Regions from separate parts of the Homo sapiens genome. Here region 2 is linked to region 1. A link means that fine-mapping ties the variant in region 1 to the expression of a gene that starts in the linked region. Tissue or cell type: whole blood. Region 1 holds a variant in brackets; the other region holds the start of a gene. All regions are shown on one strand. Distances are from middle to middle.

The links. PIP is the estimated chance that this variant, and not a neighbour inherited with it, causes the effect.
Region 2: it holds the start of CCDC174, and the variant in region 1 is fine-mapped to the expression of CCDC174 in whole blood (TOPMed, PIP above 0.99). The same link has a PIP of 0.9 or more in testis.

What each region holds. Positions count from the first base shown.
Region 1 is chr3:14,677,894-14,683,207 of GRCh38, reverse strand. It overlaps C3orf20 (chromosome 3 open reading frame 20), which reads right to left. Exons shown (of 17, transcript NM_032137.5): 2 at 877-1,038; 3 at 11-630. The coding sequence starts at 494. Among named protein-coding and RNA genes, the nearest start is that of C3orf20, 5.4 kb to the right of the region's middle. RefSeq lists a silencer at 2,230-2,430. The variant ATTG/G (reference allele first, on the strand shown) is at 2,558.
Region 2 is chr3:14,648,973-14,654,353 of GRCh38, reverse strand. It overlaps CCDC174 (coiled-coil domain containing 174), which reads right to left and starts at 2,592. Exons shown (of 11, transcript NM_016474.5): 1 at 2,476-2,592. The coding sequence starts at 2,517. LOC124909347 (a long non-coding RNA gene) reads left to right here and starts at 2,233. Exons shown (of 2, transcript XR_007095826.1): 1 at 2,233-2,685; 2 at 3,128-5,381. RefSeq lists enhancers at 2,280-2,349, 2,490-2,889, 2,393-3,051.

The DNA.
Region 1 (5,314 bases):
TGGGCCTTACCCGACATAGACTCCACCATGGCCTTCATCTTCAGTCTGAGGAGCTCCGTCAGCAGGTGGATGGACTGCTGCTGAAACCTGTTCAGGGTCTCCTGGTGGGTGCGCACCTGACGGGCCATGGTGGGAGAGAGGGTGGAGCGCTTGGCTGCCCCAGTGGTTGCCAGCAGCACTGGACGTGGTGGTGCTGGTGGTGGTGGAGGTAGTGGCTTCTTCAGTGTGGGGACCTGCACAAAGGTGGGTTCCATGAGCACCACCAGGGGGGCTCCAAAGCTGACCTCCAGGCCCAAGATGTCGGACGGGGTAGGCACTGAAGGGTCACTGATGAGCTCTTCCCAAGTGAACTCAAAGATGTTTCTGATGCCTTTTGGTACAGAAATGCCTGCATTCTGGCAGATCATGAGGAGTTTGGAGATGCGGGCCAGTAGCTTGGGGGCCATGGCTGTGTATTGCTGATATAATTCTAGGTTACTCTTGATGTAACTCATGAGAGGGACCTTCAGCTATAAAGAGAGCTCTCTGAGAGGTGACTGAGAGCAAAAGTTCTTCCCTACGGTGAAGGCTTGGAGATGGACAGAATGGATGTGCTGAAACGGCCCTTACAGGTCATTGAGCCAGTGGTTCCTATCCGGAAAGGACAAGAAAAGAGTTAGTCACTCTCCCCATAGTAGGGCAAGGGGAGGTCCCCCGTCCCTTACCTACCCAGAGACACCATCAGAGAGACCAATGTTAGTGAGTCACTTTGGGAAAGGTCTGATGATAAGTATGGTTCCAGGAAAGCTTCAAGGACAGTCACACAAACTGGGTATAGGACCCTGGGGGGGCTGGAGGAATGGAAGGGCTGGGGAAGAGAGAAAGGTCCCATTGCACCTTTTGTAGCTAGAGATCCGAGGGTGAAAGATCTGCTTGTGGTCAATCATTAAGAACCTGCAAGAATAAAAAGATGTTTCACTGGTTCGCTTTGGAAGCAAGGGATGCAGAAGCTCCTGGTCGCAATGCCAAGATGGGCATGGAATTATCCAACGTGTACATCTGAGGGCAGACAGGAAAGAATGAGGACAATGCATTTACTAAGCTCAATCACTAATATAATTTGCCAAATTTCATCAAATCCAAGACATTAGTGATCAAAAGATGCACCATCTTATAAGAAAAAAATGAATGTAAGCTGCCATTGACTGTAAGACATATTACAATTTCAGAGATGTTAAAGTTGGAAAATGTGCCTGAAAATCAATGGACTATAATAAATATTTTTCCACTTTAATACTACAGTAATGTTTACCCTGACATATTTCTACATTGTGTTTTATTCTTACCTTCTTAACTTATACCAAAAATAGACCACTGGTTGAAGAAAGGAAGCATAAAGAACAATTTAATAAGCAAAAAAATGGCTAGAAAAACCTGTAAATACACTGGCAGAGTTTTGTAACCAGATCCTGAAAGTTTCATTTTTCTGAACAAAATGAACCTGATAGCAGTCTTTAATAATATATCAAATTAAAACTAGTCACATCTTATGCTACACAAAAATGATTTGTTTCTTGTAATTCCCAAGGGACTTTATGAGAGTGTGAGCCTCCGTGAAAGACTCAAGAATCCACAGCACGTAGCAAAGGTCAACCCCAGGGAGACTTAGATGCTGATGGCCATCTCCAGCATCTTGATGCAGAGTCAGCGAGTTGTTCCTGTTGCCCAACTCCAACAACCCTAACCAGCCCACTTACCAGGAAGGGCTGCTGGCCCAAGGCTTCTGACCACACTTGTGAGTGAGTGCAGCTGTCCAACCATCTCTTCGACCACCTTTTATCCTGACAACCACTCCAGCCAACACACCTACGTCTTCTTTTCCACTAGACAATGCTCCCTTTCCCTTTTCAAACCCTCTGGAGCCACCCCAAGTTCGCCATTCCAGGATGGCCTGCCTGGTGCCCACCTTCCATGTTTACAGGGCAGGCTCACAGCCACGAGCTCGTGTGCCCACCCAGTGGTGAGAAGGCTATCATCTTTCTTGTTTTGCTGGGAATCAGAGCTCTTGGTCAGGAGTCACCCATCTGCAGACTCCTGGCACAGAGGCCTTTCCAAACACCACACTAATTTTTCATGGCCTCTGACCTGCCTCTGTCCATCTATCAATAACAAAATCTCCAAGGAACATGAGCCCCAAAGAGCAAACCCTTCCAGCATCCTGCTGGTTTGCAGATAGTGGCTTCCTACGCCTATTTGTTGACCTCCTGGCATCTCCATTCCTCAGCTTTGCAGATTGGGAAAAAGAGCTTTGTTTTTGAAATGATAAGTCCACAGGACAAAGAAACCACTCAGAATCCCGGTCATCTGGGCAACCAGCCAGAGGGATCTGATCCTGACTGTGCAGGGCAGATTTTTTTTTAAGTCAGGACTTAAATGAGAAGAAGGAGATAACTAATATAAGTCTTGAAATATTAACTGGTTTGGGAAACTTATCCCCCCTGCCACCAGTTCCTTTGTTTTTTGAGGTTAATTTTGAAGATATATCTTACAGATAAAAACTGAATTTTTGAACAGCTTT[ATTG/G]AGATAGAATTCACATACAATCCACCCTTTTTAACGTGTGTACAATGGCTTTTAGTATATTCAGAGTTGTATAACCATTACTATCAAATTTTAGAACATTCTATTGCCCCCACACAAAACCCATCATCAGTCACTCCCTGTTTCCCCTCACCCTCAGGCAACCATTCGTCTAGTTTCTGTCTCTGTGGATTTGCCTGTTCTGGACATTTCATAAAAATAGGATCATCAACTATGTGGGTTTTTTTGTGACTGTCTTCTTTCACTTGCTGTAATGTTTTTTAAATTCATCCATGTTATATAGCATGTATCAGTACTTCACTCCTTTTAATGACAGAGTAATATTCCACTGTATGGATATACCACAATTTGTTGATCCACTCATTTGTTAATGGGCATTTTGGTTATTTTTATTTTTTGGCTATTATGAATAGTGCTATGAATATGCATACATAAGCTTTTGTGTGGATGTATGTTTTCATTCTCTCACATATGTATACCTAGAAGTGGGATTGCTGGGTCATGGGGTAACTCAAGTGTTTAACTTTGTGAGGGCTTGCCAGACTGCTGTAACATTTCACAGTCCCACCAGTGGCGTTTTGAGAATTCTAATTTCTCTCTTTGCCAGCACTTGTTATTATGCCTTTTTGACTCTAGTGCTATCCTGGTAGATGTGAAATTATGTCTCATTGTGGTTCTGATTTGTATTTCCCTAATGACTAATTCCCTAAGCATCTTTTCATATGCTTATTGGCCATTTTATATCTTTTTTTGAGAAATGTGTATTCAGACCTAAAAACTGTTTTAAAAAGCAATGTCATTTTAAATTAAATGTGGAGATAACCTATGTTTATTGCTGTATATTTACATCTCTTCCAAACTCAGAGGTGAACATGTGACTACATCCTGGCCTGAGATGCAGATGAAGCTCCTGGGTAAAGGACCCTGAGAAATCTGTTTGAAGGAGACTGCCTTCAGGGAATGAACATAATTTTTTTTTTTTGTACCAGCTGACCTCTCTAGTCCTTCTTGCCTGAAATGGATAAGATGGCTGCAGCTCCAGCAACCATTTTGAGCCACGAGGTTACCCTGAAGAGGGAAACTTCGCATTAAAGGTGGCCAAGCTGCGCAGCAGAGCCCGGGCTCCTGATGACATTGTGGCACCCACACCAGCACTCAACCATCCACCTCCAGGCTTTTTCCACATGCAAATGAACCTCTAATGCCTTTAAGCCACTTTATTTAGCTCTCTATTCTGGCCAATGAAAGTGATTCCCCACTGACCCCCAGCCATGTTAGATCATCACTCCTTCCTTCCCATTTATCCAATTTCTATTTTGTCATTCATTTTTCCATCACTGAGACATGGATCTTGACCTAAAGTAACTCAACAATGAACAGGCAGAGCAGACTTACAAAACTGACTTATGTGATAAGGGTCACACTACAGAAAAACATACAAAGGCCATGAAAACAAAAACAAAAACAAAAAGGAAAGAACTGGCACTAGACAGTGTTCTAAAAGATGAGTAAGAAGTTGCCAGGCAGATAGGAACAAGACAGGCATTCTAGGAAGAAGAAACAGCACCTACAAAGAGATGGTGACATTGGAAGCATGGTGGGCTCAGAGGACTGCACACACCTCAGTATGTCTGGGATGTGGGGGGATCCGTGGGAGAGCAGCAGATGAAACTGGGAAAGTGGCCTAGAATCAGATCTTGCAGGGCCTTGTATGTCATTCCAAAGAATTTGCATGTGCTATATAATCAAATACTCCATGCAAATACTGAAATGTATTGTCTTTAATGGCTAATTGTGTTCCATATGGTCTCATCTCTGCAATTGGAGGGCAGGGGCCATGTCTTCTCTTTTATAATCTCTACAATGCTAAGCCCAGCACTGCTACATGCCAGAAACGGAAAAATATCTGTAGCATTAAAGTCAGCCACATAGCCTAAGGGACCCACGCAGATGGCTATAAACAAAGCTTCAAGATGCAATTCCCACAAAGGAATGAAATGTATAAGAAATTTATAAAGGATATGAGGGATGACCATGGACGCAGCACCTTCTTCAGTCAACAATCTGCTGCATGTCTCCACTGTTTCCAGTTAGCTTCTGGGACAGGGATGGGGAAGGCATGGGCCCTGCTCTCGAGGGGCTCACAGTAGAGAGGGGAGACACACACACAGAAGGCTACAGTAAGTCAGAGTGCTCTCTGCAAGGCGGAATGGAAACCCAGAGAAGGAAGTGTCACTGGGAGGGCAAGAGTTAAGGTTCTCACGTCACATGAATGTGTGTTTAGGCAATGTGACCTTGAGCCCAGCCTTTGATCTGTGTGATGTTCCCAATGGCCACGTGTGACACTAGTCCCCACCTTCAAGGACTGTGAGGATTAGTGAGGTGGTGTGTGTGAAGGGTCAGCACACACGCAGCACAGAGTTGAATGCTCAGTAATTGTTAGGTAGAAAAAAGGTCATTATTTGAAGTGGTCAAAGGTTGTATTACAGGCGATGGGCACAGCTCTTGTACAGGCTGAAGGCTCCAAACAGCCCTGACAAGTTTGTGGAACAGCAAGGAACTGGATGCCGCTACAGGGTAGTGTAGAGGTGGGGAGGGTAGGACCAGGTGAGAGGAGCCTGAGCTTGATCTTGTAGCTGATGGGAAACTACTGAAGTTGGCAAACAAAGGAGGCATCTGCATTGTAGGGTGCTCCTTCTGCTGCTGGCAGCGTGGAGGGAAGTGTGGTGGGGTGAG
Region 2 (5,381 bases), 29 kb after region 1:
TTCCAAAGGAATATTTCAAGTTCCGCTAAATGGACAAATATGGCTAAAAAACTAAATGTTTAAGTAACTAAATGTTTAAATGTAGAATCCAGTACACAAATTAAGCTAAGTCATGTTTCATTCTACCTCTGCTGCAAATGCATTTTTACTCTGACTTTCAACACTCGAGGCTTTCCTTAGGCAAGGAGAAAGTGATAAAGCAAAATAAATTAATAAAGTCTGCATCTTTTAGTTTCAGATTAAACTTGCATTATTAAGCACCTTCTCTCTGACTAGCACTGCACTCATTTCATCATCACAACTTATTTCTACAGTGAAATGCTGTAGAAATAACGCTGAAGAGCAGAACATAAACATGAATTAGACATACTCTCTGCCTCAAAGAGCCTACAATGTAACAAGGAAAGTAATTTATACTACCAACAAAATAAAACAAATGACTCTAGAGTGGAAGAAAGTAGCACATAAGTTCAGATAACAGAGCATTTCCTTCTGAGCAGAGTGATCAGAGAAAGCTTAGAGCAGAGCCTTTAAAGACACATTATTTCAACAGCTAGAAATAAAATAGACTGGGTGAATTATAACAGCTCCACGTTTGACTTAATCCATTTCAAAAACCGTAAGCTTGGCTGAATCACACGGTTCAAGAACAGGAAAGAAGGCCAAGGCATAGGGAGTGGGGCAGTTGGGTGAATATTAGTACCTTTCCCTCAGCTACATTAATTACCCCTGCCTACTCTGCAAAAAAGGATATAACAACAGTTTCCTTTTTAATGGTCCAGGTACAGCTGCTTATATGGATGGGCATTTGTAAATCAGATACTTCATCACTGTCTTAATCATCAGATACTTAAAAAAATCACTTTATTTGTTAAGGAAGATAAAAATGGCTGGGTTCAATTTCCGTTTTGGAAGAAATCGATTTAAAAGGTAACCATTTAATAATGCAAAGGGCAGTTTCACTGCAGACCCTAATACTGGAAATTTTTAAAAACAAATGAAAAACTTCTACTTTTTCTTCTAAGCTTACTTAACCACACCAAATTTTCCAGCCACATATCTTCCTAGTCTACAACTGCCTTTAACTTTAAGAGATGCTCAAAAAAATGTAAATTCTCAAATAGCATTCTTATTACAATTACTGCTAACCTGTCAGTATAGGTTGGCTTTAATATTTATAGCTTTCTGGTTCCTGATCTTCAAACAAAATAATAACTGGTACCAATTTTAACCAATAATAGTTACCAATAATAACTAGTACTCAAATATTGGGACACCTATATGTTTTCCTTCCTACTCACTTTGTGTCCTAATACTCTGAAGTAAATTCAAGATTAAATCAAAGGTTGGGCAATTTGCTCTGATGATGAAAAGGCAGCAGCTTTGGAGTCAAGTAGAGTGAGTGAGAAAGGGTCTATCACTAAGATTTCTTCCCCCCGCCCCCCGCCCCTTAGACGGAGTTTCGCTCTTGTTGCCCAGGTTGGAGTGCAATTGCGCGATCTCGGCTCACCGCAACCTCCGCCTCCCCGGTTCAAGCGATTCTCCTGCCTCAGCTTCCCGAGTAGCTGGGATTACAGGCGTGCACCACCACGCCCGGCTAATTTTTTTATTTTTAGTAGAGACGGGGTTTCTCCATGTTGGTCAGACTGGTCTCAAACTCCCGACCTCAGGTGATCTGCCCGCCTCAGCCTCCCAAAGTGTTGGGATTACAGGCGTGAGTCACCGCGCCCGGCTATCACTAAGATTTCTGTCTGTAAGCTGGGGAAAGCTACTTCATCTTTCCAGGCCTCAATTTCATCATCCATAAAACGGAGATATTAATAGCACCTACCTCCTAAAGCCATTGGGAGGATTCAATGAGATAGTGCATATAAAGTGCTGGCACAAAATGTGTACTTAGAACAAGTTTTCTTTCTAGAGTAGCTGATGTAATAAATCTGCTTACATCCTTTCAGACCTCACAACTCCCTATGCCTGCATTAACAACTGTTTAGTTCCAGGGAGGGCACGCTGGACACTTTCGGGTCCTGCGAAATATGTCACACTCTAAAGTTCTGGGAGGACTTTGTGGGTCCCTGGATGGAGGAGAAACCAGGAAGAGGATATGTCTGCATAGCAAAAAGAAGCTAGGGTTCCTCCTGACTGTAAGGGAGAAGGCTGACGAGGTGCAGGTCCTTGTGGGCAGGGCAGAGGTGAGGCACGGAGTTTCCTAACCCACGGGACACCAGGTTCAGATCCGTGTCCGAGGGTTCTGGCCCGGGCGCATGTCAGAGGAGAGTAGCCCAATTCAGGGTCCTGTAAGAAAACTGAACCGGATCCCCGCCGGAGAAGAAAATCCAGTTCGGGGGTTCCTGTTTGAGGGGAGAGGTCAGGTCTCTGGGTCCCCGAGTGAAGAAACAAGCTAGGTCGACATTCTTGTCTGATGGAGACACGGTGAACCCGGAGCCCGTGGAGTTACCTCATACCCTCACTCACCGAGGAGGCCGTGACGTCCAAAGGCTTTTTCCTACGGTCCATGGTCGTGGCAGAGGGTCCCGGTCCAGGAAGGACCCTTTCTACCCGACACAGGCCTCGTAAGCCTACCTCCGTCGCAACCGGAAGTGTCTTCGACAGCGACACTGAGTTTGCGTGAGTTTGCGACGCGAGTTTGTCAGCTCAGCGCCATCTTGAGAAGGTCAGAGTGTGGTGCGTATTACGTTCACCATCATTTTGGAAAGGTCATAGAGTGCGGAGGTTGACGCTAACTGCTAAGGTCATCTTGAGGGCGGAAGGTAACAAGGATTGGTGTGGGCGCCATCTTGAGAAGGGCGGAATAAAGCTTTTGATTGCGATGGACGCCATATTGGGTGGGGCGGATGTGGGGTTGGCGACAAAGATAACGCCATCTTGGGGAAGGCTGACGCTTAAGTAAGTGAACTCGAGCGTCTCGGGAAAGGTGGATTGGGAGGACCGGAAGAATCTTAACTGCAATTCCAGGACCTGCTGCCTGGCACTTTTCACACGTTAAATAGTTGGTTCTTAAAAGAGCGTACGAGATAAGGATTATTATATTAATCTTAGTAGAAATAACAAGAATAATAGCTAACATTAATGTAGTGCTTATTATGGGCCACTTTACATATTTCAGCTCTTAAGAACGTGAACTCCTGGGCCGGGCGCGGTGGCTCACGCCTGTAATCCCAGCACTTTGGGAGGCTGAGGCGGGTGGATCAGGAGGTCAGGAGTTTGAGACCAGCCTGACCAACATGGTGAAACCCCGTCTCTGCTGAAAATACAAGAAAAAAAAAAAATTAGCCGAGCGTGGTGGTGCGCGCCTGTATTCCCAGCTACTCAGGAGGCTGAGGCAGAAGAATCGCTTGAACCTGGGAGGTGGAGGTTGCAGTGAGTCGAGATCAAAAAAAAAAAAAACAAAGAACACGTGAACTCGAAAGCTGACTTTCTGGGTTGGAATCGCTCTTCACGGCTTACTGCTTGTGTGACCTTGGGCAAGTTACTTAACTTCCGTGTGCCTCAGTTTCCAAAGGGGGATATAATTTTATTTACCTAATGGGTCTTAGTGAGGATTAGATGAGTTAAATGAGCTAGTCTTGATAAAAATGTTAATGATTATGGTAGACAGACCAATCACCCTCACCCCGACTCCCAGATGTCTACCTTCTAATCCCCAGAATCTGGGTATATGGTGACCTTTATATAGCAAAAGAGAATTGGCAGAGATGATGAAATTAAAGCGATTGAGATGGGGAGCTAGCCTGGATTGTGCAGGTGGGTCCCCTATCATCAAAACCATCCTTATAAGGGGTAGACAGGATGGCCAGAGTCAGACAGAGATCAGAGATGCTTTGAAGAGGGAGAGTGGGACCACATGCCTAGGTATGCAGGAGGCCGCTAGAAAAAGCAAAGAAATGAGCCCTCCTCCAGAGTCTCCAGAAGGAATGCAGCATTGCTGACACGGTGATTTTAGTCTTGTAACACTCATCTCAAACTTCTGACTTCCAGAACTCTACCAGAATACGTTTGTGTTGTTTTAAGCCACCAAACTTGTGGCAATTTGTTACAGCAGCAAGACGAAAGTGATCATAATGATTGTAACAGTGGCATTTAGTATATGTGGGGCATGTGTATGACTCTTTGCATAGATTATATTATATAATCCTTGCAAGAATCCTAGAAGCGGACCTATTATCCACCATATTAGAGAGAAGAAAAATGAGACTCATCACATCCTCATCTCATCTGTCTTTATGGAGAAAATGGGAAAAGGGAAAAGGAGAGGGGAATTGAGGCAGTTGACTGTGTTCAGTCTTATTTATTTATTTTCATTTGTTTATTTCTCCAAGTCCGCCAGTCTCTGAAATTAGAACAGTAAGCAATATGAGATAATCGGGCCTAATAATGTTGTGATTCTCTTTTCTTAATGGAGTGGAATGTTCTGTCCCCACAAGAAGGATTATACCTTATAGACTTGTCTTGTTCAGATTCTGTATTTACCCATTTTACTGAAACACATACTAAATTCCATGTGTTTTTGTTACAAATCTTCTGAAAGAAAATGTGAAACATTAAAAGGTATTAATAATAATTTTTTTTAAAAGGAAAAAAAATGAGGCTCAGTTGCTTAAATGGCATGCCAGGGGTCATTTCCCAGCTAGCAAGTGAAGGAGCCTTCAGTTAAAAAATAACTCAAAGACATTGAGTTAATTATTGGCGTGTTATTTACTTGTAACTAGTGGAACCAGTATAGACTGACTTCATCTCAGAAAGCGAGGAAAGGATTTATATAGAAGAAACACAGCTTCTAAACTATGAATGTTGGTTTTTTTGCCTAGCTGGACCCTGGCAATGAAGCCAGTGAGTGTTCTGATCCTGGAAAGCTAGAAAGAAAGTAATTCTAGTTGCACGTGAATGTCCCTGAAGACCATGAGAATTTAGCTTCCTCTGCACGATGCCTGTCAGGGTCCTTGGTTGTCATCTCCATCTTAGCGATGCAGGTTTGCACCCTCACCCTTGTCAGAAATTCTCCCTAGAGTGGCATCCAGCTGATTGTAACCACCTCCCAAGCCACTTAAATGACCAGGAGCAAGCTAGTGAGTCCCCTTTATTCCCAGGCTCACTCATTTTGCAGGCTGCAAAAGCACAAAATAACTTAATCTTGCATTGACCAGAATGCTCCCCTGTCATACAAATGATTTTTCACATATCCCCCCATTTCCTCAAACTCTCTCCTCTTTGTTTATGTGTTCCAAGCATCTGGGTCTATCTGGAATTGCCTTCCTCTACCAAGTACAAAAGTTGAAGCCCAGCCCAGTATGTTCTTTACTCAGTCACCCTCTAAATACATGGACCTGGGTTTGTTCTGGAAGAAAGGGAGGGCAGGGACA